Regions from separate parts of the Homo sapiens genome. Here region 1 is linked to region 2. A link means that fine-mapping ties the variant in region 2 to the expression of a gene that starts in the linked region. Tissue or cell type: esophagus mucosa. Region 2 holds a variant in brackets; the other region holds the start of a gene. All regions are shown on one strand. Distances are from middle to middle.

Region 1 (8,190 bases), 29 kb after region 2:
AGCCCCAGCTGCTGCAGTTCACTGGACAAGGATTCGCCATCGACACTGTGCTTGGCCGCACTGGAGAGGATGAAACTCAGCACTGCCACTGTGGCCTTCACATCGCCTGACTCTGAGGGACCCGTGGGTGGGGCAGGGGGTGTCACTGTGGGTCCAGCCACCTCCCTGTTGCCCTATTAACTTTAGCTCAAAGCCCCCAGGCCTCCTGGAGCCACAGGCACTGCTACTGCTCCACCAGGAGCTGGCAGAGGACAGGAAGGTGGGACTGTCGGTCTTTCTTTCCCTCATGCTCCTCCACTAGGGAAGGTAAGTTAAGGATGCTGCTGGGAGGGGTGGGGGGCCCCTCTGTACCAGGCACCAGGCCAAGTTCCCAGGGTTGCCTGGGGCCTATAGACTCAGCGGGATACTCACCAAACTTGGCGTCAGCCGTGAGCTTCAGGATCTTCTCATACTATGGGGAAAGGAGACCTTCAGGGGGTGCCAGGCCCCTGCTCACCAGCCCCTCACCCCCAGCCTGGATCCTGCGATAAGGAACAGACAGGCTGGAAAGAAGGAAGGGAGGTGCCCAGAGAGGTTGAGAGGCTGGCTCACCCGTCTCCCTGGGCCTAGTGCAGAGTTTCAGGGCAGTGGTGGTCATAAGGTCATGGGACAATGGGGTGCTGGATCTTGTACTCACATCAATCCCCTGTCCCAGCAGCTCCTTTAGTACCTGGCTGCAGAGCAGCCGCAACTTCACAGAGGACTGGAAGGGAAGTCCTTACATCAGCCAGGCTGGCAAACCTCACCCCTCCTTCCTGGGGACTGGCTCAGAGCAGGCCAGCCACTGATCAAGGTCACAAAGCATGGTAGCACAGGCTGAGAGCACTGAGGCCCTAGCCCCAGAGAAACCTCACCATCCTCTACACCCACAATCCCCACCCCCAACACCCCTCCTCCACCCAGACTAGACCCTGTGCACTCAACCATCTTGGCCAGCGTGCTGATTTCTGCCAGGACCCAGTCGGGACAGTCCAGATCACCACAGAACCGGAACCTCTGCAAGGGAGGGAGGCAGGTAATCAGGCTGGAGGGAGGCCTGAGGTGTGGCCAGGATCCGTGTGTCTCCCACACTGCTGCCCACCAGGGACCCCTGGTCCCCGACATAGATGGATACCCTCTGGCCTCTTGTTCTCCCCTATCACCAGGCTGTTGAGTAAACTCTCTCCCTGACCCACCCTGCCACCAAACCCTGCTCTGAGGTCTACTCCAGGCATTCATCTGCTCAGCAAACATCAATTAAGCACCTTCTCTGTGCTAGCTCCCACTCTAAGTGCTGGGGGTACAGCATGGGATAAAACAAAGTCCTGGGCCTCACAGAGACGAGTGAACTCTCTCCCCTCTTCCCCATACCCACACAACTCCAGCCACTCCAGCTTCCCTGCTGCTGCTGGGGCACACCAGCCTTGCTCCCGCCTCCATGCCTGCTGCACTCTCTGTGTGGCTTGCTATCCTTTTTTTTTTTTTTTTGAGACAGTTTCACTCTTGTTCCCCAGGCTGGAGTGCAATGGCGCGACCTCGGCTCACTGCAACCTCCGCTTCCCAGGTTCAAGTGATTCTCCTGCCTCAGCCTCCCAAGTAGCTGGGATTACAGGCATGTGCCACCACACTCGGCTAATTTTGTATTTTTAGTAGAGACAGAGTTTCACTATGTTAGCCAGGCTGGTCTTGAACTCCTGACCTCAAGTGATCCGTCCCCCTCAGCCTCCCAAAGTGCTGGGATTACAGGCGTGAGCCACGGCGCCTGGCCAGTGGCTTGCTATCCTTTAAGTGACACATCAGACCAGCCCTTCTTTTTTTAAAAAATAAAAAAATAAGACAGAGTCTCCCTCTGTTGCCCAGGCTGGAGTGCCATGGCCATGCTGGTCTCGAACTCCTGACCTCAGGTGATCCACCCTCTTCACTCTCCCAAAGTGCTAGGATTACAGGCATGAGCCACCGCACCCAGCCAGAACAGCCTTTCTTGATTATACTTCTTAAAATAGCCCCTCACACAAGGAAATTATGGAGGCCAGTGGATACGTTCATTATCTTGATTGTGGTGATCCAAGAGCCAGGAAGATTTGTTCTCTACTTGTCCAGCCTCATCTTTCCCTAACCTGCAGATGATACTCTCCCAGCTATGGGAAATGCATCCATTCCTGGGGAGCCATACTCTCTCTAACCTGAAGTCTCTGCACATGCTGTTCCCTGTCTGAAGACACACGTCTCCCACCCTTGCCTCCCTACCCCTGGTACACAAACTGTACTTCAGCCAGCCAGCTCCTGCCATCCATCCGCCTTTAAGTTTGATGGCATCCTTAGGAAGCCCCCTTAGCACTACACACAAGGCGCAGTTAGGTCTCTGCCCCTGGAGCCTTAGCTATGACTCCAATTCAAGCCTCCGATTTCCCCTTCCCTTGGCAGCTCAAGTCCTCCCAGTGCCTAGCACACTTCATGGTATAGACCAGGCGCTTAGAACGTACGGATGGATGGATTGGATGGATGGATGGATAAGTCTCAACCCCAAAACTACTACTTTCTGGCTCTGGAAAGAGCGGAGGGGCTTCCTAACAGTGTGGAAGAGTGAGCCTGATTCTAAGCACCTTCTTGTACAAGCCCCACGGCAGGGCTGGGGAAGGGGGTATCCTTGGGAGGTCCTCTTGGGGATGGGGAAGACCTGAAAGGACTCCCAGCTCCAGACAAGCCCTAGTTCCTGCCCCGGGAGGCAGGGGCCCTTCCTTCCGCCAGGGAAGCACCGGGACTCTAAGCCGGCCGGCCTGCTCTGTCTTACCCGCCCCGTACCCCCGCCCCCGTCTCGGGAGCGGGAGAGTGGTGGACTTTTCCCTACCAGACTCACAGCCCTCACGCCCGCACACACTGTGTTTGCGGAGAGGCCAGTACAACCTCCCCCAGTTTCCGGAGCCACTTGGCGCCCCCTCATTCCCGCTCCAGCAGCCCAAGCCTCGCTTCGCCCCTAGTGCCTCACCATCGCGCCAAGAAGCCAGGGCCCGGGAATTTCTTTTTCCGGTCCCGCAGGGTCAGCTGAGTCGACGATCACGTGACTTGGACTAACTGCCTCTGGGAGGGCGGGGCCTGCTCGAGTGAGGCCGGGAGCGGACCGCAGCCCGCTGGAGGTGCAGGGGGCGAAATGCTGGCGTCTCCTCCTCCGTCTCCCAGAATCCTTCCCTGGAAAAAACTGGCGCCAACCGCCAGTTTAACTGAGGACCGAATTAAGACATTAGGAAAGACAGTGGAAGTTATTTCATTTGTTTAACTTAAGGGGGTAGGATCCCGGGAGCCAGGGTGTTTCAGGTCATTGACACGTTTTCCACTGTTAAGCGAATAGCATTATTCACAGCTGCGGGCTGTGGCAAAAGACATTTTAAAAACTATTGACGTCTACTACACATACAGAAAATTGTACCTATTATAAAGCTTAATAAGTTTTCATCAACTGTACACCTCACATAACCAGCACCCAGGTAAGGAAATAAACCAGATAACTTCTTCAAGTGCATGGGTATTTTATTTCATTTTGATGAATCATCTAGGTGCCTAGCAAAAAGGGCTGTCATAATTACTTGCTCAGGAAAACTCCCTACAGCTTCAACATCAATAGATGCTTATCTTAATTTTTGCCAGTCTGATGGGGAAGAAAAATCGGTTGCTTAGGTTGCAGTGGTAGTCTGATTACTGGTAGCTCTGAGCTAATGGGTAGTCTAGAACAACTAAGTTTCCGACATTGACTTGAAGAGGCAAAAACAAAAAGACAAAACAACAAGAAAAATACATTTGAGAATAGACTAATAACCAGAGACAAAATTGAATACAGTCGTCCTTTGGTAACCTCAGGATGTTGGTTCCAGGACCCCAGAGATACCAAAATTCACAGATACTCAAGTCCCTGATATAATATGGCATAGTATTTGCAAATAACCTGTGCACATCCTTCCGTATACTTTAAATCATCTCTAGATTACTATAATACCTAATACAACGTAAATGCTTTGTAAATAGCTGTTATAAAGTTTTTTAATTTTTTTTTTTGAGACGGAGTCTTGCTCTGTTGCCCAGGCTGGAGTGCAGTGGCGCGATCTCCACTCGCTGCCAGCTCTGCCACCCGGGTTCACGCCATTCTCCTGCCTCAGCCTCCCGAGTAGCTGGGACTACAGGCGCCCGCCACTGCACCCGACCTGTGTTTTTTTATTGTTTTACTTTTTCCAAATATTTTCGATGCACAGTTGGTTAAATCCAAGGATCCAGAACCTCAGGATACAGAGGGCTGACTGTAGTTTGAGCTCTCTCCTCAATTCCATGCCTATCCCATGCAACAGGTGCAGCTGGTTTTATTGTTGCAGGCTTTCAGGTTTTTAAAAGACAGAGCCCATGACAATTAAACTGCACTATAAAATAGAAATGTAAAGTGTCCCCAATTCATGGTAAAATTGAGCTCATTTCTGAAGAGTTCTTTTACAAATCATAACCACTAGCCTGTTGAAAACAACAGTACGTTAAGTTACTAGACTATCCTAAACCATGTCAAAAAAATTTTTTAAGAATGTTAAGACCTTTAATCATAGCACTTTGGTAGGCCAAGGCCGGTGGATCGCTTGAGCCCAGGAGTTCTAGACCAGCTTGTGCAACATAGGGAGACCCCAGTCTCTACAAAAAATTACCCGCTTGTCCTGGTGCACACGTGTTGTCCCAGCTACCTAAGAGGCTGAGGTCAGAGGATCTCTTGAGCCTGGGAGGTGGAGGCTGCAGTGAACCATGATGGCACCACTGTACTCCATCCATCCTGAGCAACAGAAGGAGACCATCTCAGAAAAATAAAATAAAATAAAAATAAATAAATAAATAAATAAATAAATAAATAAAGGCTGGGCACGGTGGCTCATGCCTGTAATCCTAGCACTTTGGGAGGCCGAGGCAGGCAGATCACCTGAGGTCAGGAGTTCGAGAGCGGTGGCCTGGCTAACATGGCAAAACCTGTCTCTACTGAAAAAAAACAAAAAAAATTAGCAGGGTGTGGTAGTGGGTGCCTGTAATCCCAGCCAGTCAGGAGGCTGAGGCATGAGAATCGCTTGAACGCGGGAGGTGGAGGCTGCAGTGAGCCGAGATTGCACCGCTGCATTTCAGTCAGCTTGGGCAACAGTGTGAGACTCCGTCTCAAAAAAAAAAAAAAAAAAAAGATGATTTGACTATTTAGAGCCGTGGTTCTCACACATTAGAGTGCATCATCATCACCTGCAGGGCTTGTGAAACCGGCTGCTGGGCCTCACACCAGAGTTTCTAACTCAATAGGACTGAGGTGGGGCCTGAGCATTGCGTGTCTATATTCCCAGGTGACATTTGAGACCATGCTTTGAAAACCACTAGTGTAGGGAAATATACTACAGAATATGTTATGAATATTCTTGAGAATATGTATATATGTTAACTTAGGGTTTCTGTCCAGTGGAAAAGATAACACCCAAAGATGGCAGTTTTATTTCCCAATATGATTTTCTTTTTTTTTTTTGAAATGGAGTCTCGCTCTGTCACCCAGGCTGGAGTGCAGTGGCGCCATCTTGGCTCACTGCAACCTCCACCTCCTGGGTTCACGCCATTCTCCTGCCTTAGCCTCCCGAGCAGCTGGGACCACAGGCGCCCGCCACCACGCCGGGCTAATTTTTTTATATTTTTAGTAGAGACGGGGTTTCACCGTGTTGGCCAGGATGGTCTCAATCTCCTGACCTCGTGATCCGCCCGCCTCGGCCTCCCAAAGTGCTGGGATTACAGGCGTGAGCCACTGCGCTCGGCCCCCCTTTTTTTTTTGAGACGGAATTTAATTCTGCCGCCCAGGCTGGAGTGCAGTGGCACAATCTCAGCTCACTACAACCTCCGCCTCCAGGGTTCAAGCGATTCTCTTGCCTCAGCCTCCTGAGTAGCTGGGACTACAGGTGACCACCACTGCACCTGGCTAATTTTGTATTTTTAGTAGAGACAGGGTTTCAACATGTTGGCCAGGCTGGTCTTGAACTCCTGACCTCAGGTCATCCGCCTGCCTTGACCTCCCAAAGTGCTGGGATTACAGGTGTGAGCCACCATGCCTGACCTCCCTATAGGATATTAACAAGTTTTGTCTCTATCTCAGAATACATTTCAGAATGCCCTTCCTGGAGCATTACAGACACTGTCTCTCAAAAAGCTCCTTGAACTTGCTTCACCATGTTGCTAACTCCCTTGTGAATTAAAGAAAATATCTTATACATATTCCTTCATTATTTGTATGAAAGTCATGCTTTTAACATTGTAAAAATTATTCTTCAGGCTGGGTGCGGTGGCTCATGCCTGTAATCTCAGCACTTCGGAAGGCCAAAGTGGCGGGATCACGTGAGGCCAGAAGTTTGACACCAGCCTGGCCAACATGGTGAAACTCCGTCTCTACTAAAAAAAAAAATCAAAATTAGCTAGGGGGTGCACACACCTGTAGTTCCAGCTACTTAGGAAGCTGAGGCACAAGAATTGCTTGAACCTAGGAGATGGAGGTTGCAGTTAGCTGAGGTCGTGCCACTGCACTCCAGCCAGAGCCAGACCGAGACTCTATCTCAAAGAAAAAAAAAGAAAGAAAATTATACTTCGATACAGTATGCTAATATAAAGGATATAATCTGGTTTGGCTGTGTGTCCCCATCCAGATCTCACCTTGAATTGCAATAATCCCCACGTGTCAAGGGTGGGACCAGGTGGAGATAATTGAATCATGGGGGCGGTTTCTCCCATGCTGTTCTCGTGATGGTGAATGAGTTATCACGAGATCTGATGGTTTTATAACAGGCTTTCTCCTTTGATTCGCTCTCCTTCTCTCCTGCTGCCCTGGGAAGAGGTATCTTCTGCCATAATTGTAAGTTTCCTGAGGCCTCCCCAGCCATGCAGAACTGTGAGTCAACTTAAACATCTTTTCTTTATAAACTACTCAGTCTTGGGTATTTCTTCATAGCGGAGTGAGAATGGACTAATACAGTGTACTAATAACAGCCCAGACAGTAGTATACAGGTACTACTATACTTTGATGCTAGAGGTATTCCCATTAAGGTCAGGAGCAGTATGCGCTATCATTACCATGATCTAACATTGTTCCAGAGGGTTTTAGGTCAGCAGTTCTCAACTGGAGGTGATTTTGCCGCCCTGGGGATATTTGACAGTATCTGAAATCACTTTGGCTGTCACACTGAGGAGTGCTGCTGGCATGTGGCAGGCGGAGGCTGGGGATGCTGCTAAACATCCTGCGAGGCGCAAACAGCTCCAGAACAGAGAACTGTCCAGCCCTAAACATCAACAGTGCTGCTGTGGAGAAAGCCTGGTCTAGACAAATAAAACATGGGAAATCCATTAACATACATGTGGGTGGATAATCAACTGGCATTTGCCAATGGCAGTCTAGCTAGGAGGTCCAAAAGGAGCACCTGAAGGACAGTTAGATTTTGCAGGGGCTGCATGGTGGCTCATGCCTGCAACCCCAGTGCATTGTGAGGTCGCATTGGGAATATCTCTTGAGGCCAGGCGTTCAAGACCAGCCTGGGCAACATAGTGAGACCGCATCTCTACTAAAAATTAAAACATCAGCCAGATATGGTGCTGCGCTCTGATAGTCCCAGCTGCTGAAGTGGGAGTATCGCTTGAGCCCAGGAGTTGGAGGCTATGGTGAGCTGTGATCATGGCACTGCACTTGGAAAAGATATTTTTTGAGCCAGGGTCTTTCTCTGTTGTATCCTGGGTCTTGCTATGTTGCCTGGGCTGGTCCTGAACTCCTGGCCTCAAGCAGACTTCCTGCCTCAGCCTCCAAAAGTGTTGAGATTACAGGCATGAGCCACTGCCCCTGGCCTTACAAAATAAAAAAATAAGCTGCAGGATGTTATGTGTCCCGTTGAAAGATGTTGGAAAACAGTTGTGCATGTGACCCCGCTGTAACCAGTTATAAAAGTATCAGGATCATTAAGAAATGTACTGCGTCTGGCTTTCCCAAGTTTAGGTTCCTGCTGAAAGAATGAGATAGACCTTTTCTTCCTCCCCTCCTCACCTCCCTGCAAGAACCTGGACTGTGCATTTTGATGGGCAGGCTCTTACCTCTGACAGGCCACGGGGGCCTGCAGAGCCTTTCTGTGTGTGTTTTCTGGGCACTTGGATAA
Region 2 (8,376 bases):
GGGGAGGAGGGGGTAGGGAATGGACTGTGCCGCGGAGCGGCCAGGCAGCCCTCTTGGCGGAGGATCCAGGGAAAGTGCGGCCCCACCGGCCAGCTGGCCCCCAGGCGGAAACGGGGCGGCCTCCAGCATGTGCCCACCGGCCCGTCCCACGCAGGCTTTTTGGGGCCAGCTGCCCTGTGGCTGTGCTCTCCAGCTTCCTGACGCCGGAGAGACTTCCCTACCAGGAGGCAGTCCAGCGGGACTTCCGCCCCGCGCAGGTCGGCGACAGCTTCGGACCCACGTAGGTAACGCCCAGCGGGTGGGCGGGGCCACAGGCCTAGGGGAAGTCCCAACCCAGCTCCCAGCCACACCTTCGTTGTCTGCCCTCTGCCGTAGACAACTACGTGGGATCGAGCAGCACCCTCTGCTGGGAGCAGCACCCTCTGCTGGGAACAGCTCTCTGGTCCCTGGGTCTTCAGGGGATGGTTTTCATTCCCACGTGGCCGCCTCTGGACATCCCTTAGGAAGGGCACCCTAGGGATCACGAACCTTTGACGCCTCTGCCTGTTTCCCTCATCTTGCTTCTCACCTTGTTGCTCCTTTCTTGTGACTCAAAGCTGAGTACCTTGTGACACTGCAGATGCTTGGAGAGTTTCAAGCCCCTGCCGACACTTTATCCAAGGAAGGATATCAGGATAGGACTTCTACCTCTAGGCCTATCACAACAGCTCTCTTGCAGATGGTGGACCTGCTGGTTCCGGGTGGAGCTGACCATCCCAGAGGCATGGGTGGGCCAGGAAGTTCACCTTTGCTGGGAAAGTGATGGAGAAGGTCTGGTGTGGCGTGATGGAGAACCTGTCCAGGTGAGGAACCCTGTCCTAGGGCCAGGTATGGCCACATTTCAGCCCTGAAATGACTACAGCCCTTCTTCTGTGGACTCTGGAGAAGCCACAGCTGAGTTGCTCTGCCCACAGGGTGGTATCAGGATTTCAGGACTAGGGAAGTTGCCACTTGGGCATCTGTGCAATTGGTCCTTAGTTTTTATTGTGTATAATACAAACTTATAGGAAAACATTTCAAACAGTTCTAGATAAAGTAATGGATCTCTCCTTATCACCCATCCCATTCCCCAGCTATAACCACTGTTAAGTGTCTTATTCATGCTCCACCCTTATCAGGTTTAGTCCTTATACTCCTATCTAGTAGGTCTTTATACCCATTTACAAATTAAGAAACAGATGTGTAGTTGACTCACTCAGGTTCACACAGCTTCTATTTCAAATTGGACTGACTCTCAATCTGGGGTTAAGACTGTTCTTCCTGGCTACAAGAAGGCAGAGACCATCCCTTCCTCCCTTCACTGGCTCAGCAAATATCTCCTGGTGTCCATTCTGGGCCATACCCTTAAGCACTAGGGTGTAGCAGGGAATGAGGCAAACCTGCCCCTGACTTCACGGAGTTTCTTTCCCGGTATTTATTTAGGGGTGCAGAGGCCACCAGAATCCACACTCAGGCTGCCTAACCCCTTCCCAGGGCCCTTCCCATAAGACCATGGGTTTGCCACTGGTAAACAGGGGCTATTTGACGGTCATGGTGCTGGCTGCCATGGGAGTTGGGGCATCTACTGCCAAGGGTCCCTGATTTGCCAATCTTGGCCCTGCTTGGGAGAGAGGACCCAGAGCTGGGAACCAGATGGAGGGGCCTGACTCCCCATGGCTTACACTTTACCTGAACTGTCCAAAAGCCTCAAGCCTTGTCTCTCTCACTCCCCTCCCTACTAGGGTTTAACCAAAGAGGGTGAGAAGACCAGCTATGTCCTGACTGACAGGCTGGGGGAAAGAGACCCCCGAAGGTGAGTCCCTGTGCCCTGGTTGACCAGTGCTGTCAGGGAGGGAGTACCAGTGAGCAAGGAGGAGCTGAGGCCCAGAGTGATCTCATAAGCCCGCCTCTGCTCTAGCACAATCATCCTCACATCTCATTGTTTGCTTTTAAAAGCATGATTTTTTCCTAACCATAAAAATAATGGGCTGGGTGCAGTGACCCACACTACCCTGGGAGGCTGAGTGGGAGGATCACCTGAGCCCAGGAGGATGAGGCTGCAGTGAGCCATGATCACACCGCTGCACTGCAGCCTGGGCAACAGAGTGAGACCTTGTCTCAAAAATAATAGCAATGTTTGCCTGTGGTAAATACAGGAAAGCACAAAGAAGTAAATAACTACCGTTATTCCACTCCCTAGAATAGAGATGAACATTATTAACATCTCAGCATTCATGTTCTTTTTTTTGAGACGAAGTCTCCCTCTGTCGCCGATGCTGGAGTACAGTAGCACGATCGCAGCTCACTGTACCTTCTGCCTCCCAGGTTCAAGCGATTCTCATGCCTCAGCTTCCCGAGTAGCAGGGATTACAGGTGTGTGCCACCACGTCCAGCTATTTTTTTTTTATTTTTGGTAGAGAAAGGGTTTCACCGTGTTGGCCAGGCTACTCTCAAATTCTTGACCTCAGGTTATCCGCCCCTCTCAGCTTCCCAAAATGCTGGAATTACAGGCGTGAGCCACCGCACCTGGCCCAGTATTCATGTTCTTGGTGTATCTTTCCGGCATAGTTTTTTTTGTTTTTTCGGGGGGGTTTTTTTGGATTTTTTTGAGACGGAGTTTCGCTTTTGTTACCCAGGCTGGAGTGCAATGGCACGATCTCGGCTCACTGCGACCGCCGCCTCCCAGGTTCAAGCAATTCTCCTGCCTCAGCCTCCCTACTAGCTGAGATTACAGGTGCCCACCACCATGCCCAGCTAATTTTTTGTATTTTTAGTAGAGACGGGGTTTGACTCTGTTGGCCAGGCTGGTCTCAAACTGCTGACCTCAGGCTATCCACTTGCCTGAGTCTCCCAAAGTGCTGGGATTACAGGAATGAGCCACCGTGCCCGGCTCATCCCGGTATAGTTTTTACTAGTTAAGATTGTATCCTGACTTCTTACATTCCATGTTATAACATGGACATTTTATGACACCATTAAAAACACTTCTTAGACATTATGAATGTATTTTATATAGATTGACACTGTTTCAGATGCTTTCAGACACTGGGAGTATGGTGGTGAATAAAATAGCCCTTGCCAACAAAGGGAGACAGATTCACTCATATAATTACAAAACTGAGGGCTCTGGAAGGAAATCCTGGGTACTCCACTGAGGAATTTGCTCTAGACTTAGCAGCGAAGTGGAGTCAGGAAGGCCTCCCTAAGGAAGTCGTGTTTGCTCTCTGAAGCCTAAGTATGGCATCACCACAGCCCAGCCTGTTCTCCAATGAATGGCCCGCCCATGTTGGCCGTGTTGGTTTTAGATCTTGGGTCTAAAAGTTTGAGCCTGGGAGATCCGAACATGATTTTAATATGCAAAGAGGGTTCCAAGACCAAGGCAGTGCTTTGCAAAGACAACTTTGGAAATATAAGACTAAACAGCAGCGTACTTTACATGGTTCCAAACTTTGCTACTTATTCTCTCTGACAGCAAGACATGGGATCCATCTGGTGTTTGTACCACAACCCTCCCACATGCACTCTTGTCACACTGTGGGATCCTCTGGGTAGTGGATCCTGGAAGCAGACAGGTTGGGCTCAGCTGGATGCCTCCTGGGTGCCCCTTCCCCAAGTCCCCGGAGTACTGTGCCAGTCCCTTAGCCTGAGGCTGTCTCCCCATCTTTGTAGCCTCACTCTCTATGTGGAAGTAGCCTGCAATGGGCTCCTGGGGGCCGGGAAGGGAAGCATGATTGCAGCCCCTGACCCTGAGAAGATGTTCCAGCTGAGCCGGGCTGAGCTAGCTGTGTTCCACCGGGATGTCCACATGCTCCTGGTGGATCTGGAGCTGCTGCTGGGCATAGCCAAGGTACTTGACACCCCCTGTACCCCCTGCTACCCTCTAGAGCCCTGCTCCAAGAAGGTTGTTCTTTGGGTCAGATAAATGGGACTCTGGGAATCCAGAGTAGGACGAGGGTTTCCACCTGCTTGAGGGTTGAGAGAATTTTCCTATGTGAAGGGGAGGAGGGAGACGGTGCTGAGCAGGGGGACCAGCAGGGAAAAAGGGTTGGGGGTCAGGGGAGCTCTGCTGAGAGCCCTGAGATCAGTGGAGCCTAGGTCTGGAAGCTGTGCTTGAAAAAGGGATTAAGGGGCAGAACCCTGCTGCAGGGCCTCGGGAAGGACAACCAGCGCAGCTTCCAGGCCCTGTACACAGCCAATCAGATGGTGAACGTGTGTGACCCTGCCCAGCCCGAGACCTTCCCAGTGGCCCAGGCCCTGGCCTCCAGGTTCTTTGGCCAACATGGGGGTGAAAGCCAACACACCATTCATGCCACAGGGCACTGCCACATTGATACAGGTAGGACAGCAGCTGGTTGGGCTGGCTGGGGAAGCAGGAGTGCCCTTGAAGACCTGGATGTGCCCTAGAAGCACTGTGTGATGCTCAGCAAGTTCTTGCTCCTCTTGGACCTGCGTTTTCCCCGTCTGTAAAACGGGGCCGGGGGGCTGGACTGTGGGCTCTGCTTGCTTTGGATTCACTTTTTTTTTTTTTGAGACGGAGTCTCACTCTTGTCACCCAGGGTGGAGTGCAATGGTGTGATCTCGGCTCACTGCAACCTCTGCCTCCCGGGTTCAGGCGATTCTCTTGCCTCAGCCTCCTTAGTAGCTGGGATTACAGGCACCCACCACAATGCCTGGTTAATTTTTGTATTTTTAGTAGAGACGGGGTTTCACCAC[G/A]TTGGCCAGGCTGGTCTCAAACTCCTGACCTCAGGTGATCCGCCTGCCTTGGCCTCCCAAAGTGCTGGGATTACAGGCATGACCCACCGTGCCCAGCCTCATTTATTCTTTCAACAAAATCTGATGCCTCATGGGGCCCATGCTAGATATTGAGGGTAGGATTACAGAGACAGATTCAGCAGGCAGAGTTGGTGTCACAATGGTGGGGAGTCTGAGGCACTGGAGAGCACAGGAGAGGTACTTACTCCAGCTGGGTTGGGGGATTCCAGAGAGGCTTCCTGGACAAGTTTGCAGTGTCTGAGTTTTACGGGAAATCCACATTTTTAACAAGCTCCTGAAGGTATTGATTCTGATGCAGCCGAAGTTTTGGGATCACAGAACAAGGGCTTTCTCTGCTGTGCCAAGATGTAGGGTAAGGTGTGAGAGGTTCTGGGCTGGTAAGGGAGGAACTGCAGCCTGGGAGTCAGGAGAGGCTGTAGCACCTCTGGTAGGACAGCTGGCTCCATCCTGGGAGCCATGCCTCTGTTCCCAGGTATACATCAAGTTTGTGCAGGGGCAGGGTAGTCCCTGCTACTTCTCGTAGGATCCTCTAGGGGATGTCTAATTCCCCAAGAGGACTGAGGCTATTCTGGGGCCTGGAGCCTCCATTTCCTGACCTGTATAATTGGCCTCATAGCACTGCCGCCTCCTTTCCCCAGCCCCTCCTCCCACCTCGCTGGAGTGAAGTGAAGTGACCACTTAGGAGGGACACCACAGGGCTTTCCAGGGTGAAGGGCCTGGGATGGGAGGGGGGCTAGGTGACCCTCTGGAGTCCCAGCCCAGGCCTGGTCAGCCTTGCTGCTCCCTCTGTCCTCCACCTCACTCCCCGTATAGCCTGGCTTTGGCCCTTCAAAGAGACTGTGAGGAAATGTGCCCGGAGCTGGGTGACCGCCCTGCAGCTCATGGAGCGGAACCCTGAGTTCATCTTTGCCTGCTCCCAGGTCAGAGGGACAGCTGTGAGGGAGGAGGGAAGCACGTGGCCCTCCCTGGAGCTCCACAGGCCCTGAAGGCTTCCCAGGCCTGGGGTCAGGGCTGCTCCTCACCCTCAGCCACACACTGAGTCCCATATGCTCAGTCCTGGGTGGGGCCCTTGTCACTCTGGTCCCAGCTCCCTTCAACCTGCCCACAGGCGCAGCAGCTGGAATGGGTGAAGAGCCGCTACCCTGGCCTGTACTCCCGCATCCAGGAGTTTGCGTGCCGTGGGCAGTTTGTGCCTGTGGGGGGCACCTGGGTGGAGATGGTAAGTGCACTGGGCACTCCTCAGCCTTGAACTGTATGACAACAGCCTTCCCTCAGGTAGCCCCGCCCTCCCGGCTTTGCTGGTGAGTTTCCACGGGCCACTCATCCCCGCTGTGTGGCAGGGCTGGCTCATTAGTCCCTGGGATCTCAAGGCCTGGGACTTCAAGGGGGAGGAGAGCCTCCAGCGCTGTGACAAGTTGCATGGCCTAGTCCTGGGCACCCCCTCAGGCAGATGGACAGTCAGGCCTGAAGGACAGGGGCCCTTCCTGAGTTCTGGCTGTAACTCCCATGTTTGAGCAGCCCTGGCTTCTCCTGCAGGGATTGGGTTGGCCTGAGCGCCTGCCTGCTCCCCGTCCAGCGCTGACCTGGGCTGCCTCCCACTTCCTTCACTGCCAGGATGGGAACCTGCCCAGTGGAGAGGCCATGGTGAGGCAGTTTTTGCAGGGCCAGAACTTCTTTCTGCAGGAGTTTGGGAAGATGTGCTCTGAGGTAGGCTGAGAGCTGCTACACCAGGCTGTGGGCGAGTGGGGCTGGCGCTCGACTTGGAGTGCTGAGGGGCTGAGGCTGGGGTGAGTCCGCCTGGAGCTCTGGTTCCTGCACTCCAGGATCCTCTTTCTCCACAGTTCTGGCTGCCGGACACCTTTGGCTACTCAGCACAGCTCCCCCAGATCATGCACGGCTGTGGCATCAGGCGCTTTCTCACCCAGAAATTGAGCTGGAATTTGGTGAACTCCTTCCCAGTAAGCAGGCCCCCGGGGGGTCAGGGTCAGAGTGGGCCTCAGTCCCGCCTGGCCCATTTGCCTCTCCCCCTTATTGTGGGGTCCTAGACAGACCACCAAACCCTCACTCTGCCTCTGCCAGGGTCACATAGCAGGCAGGGGCAGGACCAAGTCTGGAAGGCCTGGCTCTGCCTCAGCCCTGACTCTGGCCTCTCTGCCCTGCTTCTGTTTCCCTGCTGGTAGCACCATACATTTTTCTGGGAGGGCCTGGATGGCTCCCGTGTACTGGTCCACTTCCCACCTGGCGACTCCTATGGGATGCAGGGCAGCGTGGAGGAGGTGAGGGGTCACCTAGGGTGGTGGGGTAGGGGCAGGCTGGAGAGGGCTGGCTTGTTCCAGGCTGATCCATGCTGGCCTGCCCTCACCTGTCTAGGTGCTGAAGACCGTGGCCAACAACCGGGACAAGGGGCGGGCCAACCACAGTGCCTTCCTCTTTGGCTTTGGGGATGGGGGTGGTGGCCCCACCCAGACCATGCTGGACCGCCTGAAGCGCCTGAGCAATACGGATGGGCTGCCCAGGTCAGGCCAGGCCTTGGCTCTCCTTTAGCCCCACCCTGGGCCCTTGCCATGAGCCCTGCCTTCCCTCAGACATTGGGCCCAACCCCTCCTCTGGACCTTGTCCTGTCCCAATCCTAGACCACGGGTTCCTCCAAACTTCCACCCTGGGGGTGGGTGGGGGAGAAGCTGAAGCTGGTAAGGGCTCCAGCCCATCAGAGAGAGAGGCTCTCCTAGGGCGTCCAGGGCTGGCCATCTGTGAACGGGGAGCTTTCTGGAGTGGCTCCTCTCTGTAGGAGCTGGATCCTTTGCTTTGGTGTGGAAGAAGGGTGAGCCATGTGGTCTCCAAGGCTGGGAGACCTAGGCTTGTGGTCTCCTCAGGGTGCAGCTATCTTCTCCAAGACAGCTCTTCTCAGCACTGGAGAGTGACTCAGAGCAGCTGTGCACGTGGGTTGGGGAGCTCTTCTTGGAGCTGCACAATGGCACATACACCACCCATGCCCAGGTCAGGGGGAGGTTGCAGGGCTGTGCAGGGAGGGTGTGCCCTTGATCTGCAGAGGGTCAGAGAAGGCAGCAGGGGACAGAGCCCAGGCCAGATCTAGGGGAAGAGAAGTTTGGAGGAGAGAAGTTCAAGACCTGGGTTGGTCAAGAAAGCTTGAAGGAGGCAGAAACCCCTGAAGAAAGAAGGGTTTGGGCTGCGGGGAGAAGAGGGAAGGCATTTAAGGCAGGTCACCCGCCAGAGGCCTTCTCCACGAGGCCCTTGGTGAGTCCTCAGGGATTCTGAGCAAGGGAGGGCTTTGGAAGGTGTCCTGGGACAGCTAAGCAGGCTCCAGACTAATCTTCCCATCCTGGGCTCAGATCAAGAAGGGGAACCGGGAATGTGAGCGGATCCTGCACGACGTGGAGCTGCTCAGTAGCCTGGCCCTGGCCCGCAGTGCCCAGTTCCTATACCCAGCAGCCCAGCTGCAGCACCTCTGGAGGTCAGCCCAGTTCTGTCCCTGCCATCCACCTGACTGCTCACTGCAGTTACCTCTGTGCCTGCCCCTCCCAGCCTTCCCATCCCTGCCCTTGGCCCCTGCAGGCTCCTTCTTCT

Which allele goes with the higher level. Positions count from the first base shown, and alleles are read on the strand shown. Sizes are in standard deviations (SD) of each study's normalised expression.
For the expression in esophagus mucosa of the gene that starts at base 3,034 in region 1, G is the high allele of the variant in region 2 and A is the other (moderate effect, 0.46 SD a copy in GTEx).

What was found. PIP is the estimated chance that this variant, and not a neighbour inherited with it, causes the effect.
Region 1: it holds the start of COMMD4, and the variant in region 2 is fine-mapped to the expression of COMMD4 in esophagus mucosa (GTEx, PIP 0.94).

The regions. Positions count from the first base shown.
Region 1 is chr15:75,330,907-75,339,096 of GRCh38, reverse strand. It overlaps COMMD4 (COMM domain containing 4), which reads right to left and starts at 3,034. Exons shown (of 8, transcript NM_017828.5): 1 at 3,005-3,034; 2 at 964-1,035; 3 at 677-742; 4 at 412-451; 5 at 1-112. The coding sequence starts at 3,007. RefSeq lists enhancers at 2,641-2,810, 3,151-3,200.
Region 2 is chr15:75,359,977-75,368,352 of GRCh38, reverse strand. It overlaps MAN2C1 (mannosidase alpha class 2C member 1), which reads left to right. Exons shown (of 26, transcript NM_006715.4): 2 at 155-280; 3 at 719-842; 4 at 1,761-1,831; 5 at 3,688-3,865; 6 at 4,165-4,354; 7 at 5,605-5,711; 8 at 5,900-6,010; 9 at 6,406-6,498; 10 at 6,633-6,749; 11 at 6,972-7,067; 12 at 7,162-7,307; 13 at 7,665-7,788; 14 at 8,142-8,263; 15 at 8,365-8,376. Among named protein-coding and RNA genes, the nearest start is that of MAN2C1, 4.4 kb to the left of the region's middle. RefSeq lists a silencer at 1-79. The variant G/A (reference allele first, on the strand shown) is at 4,732.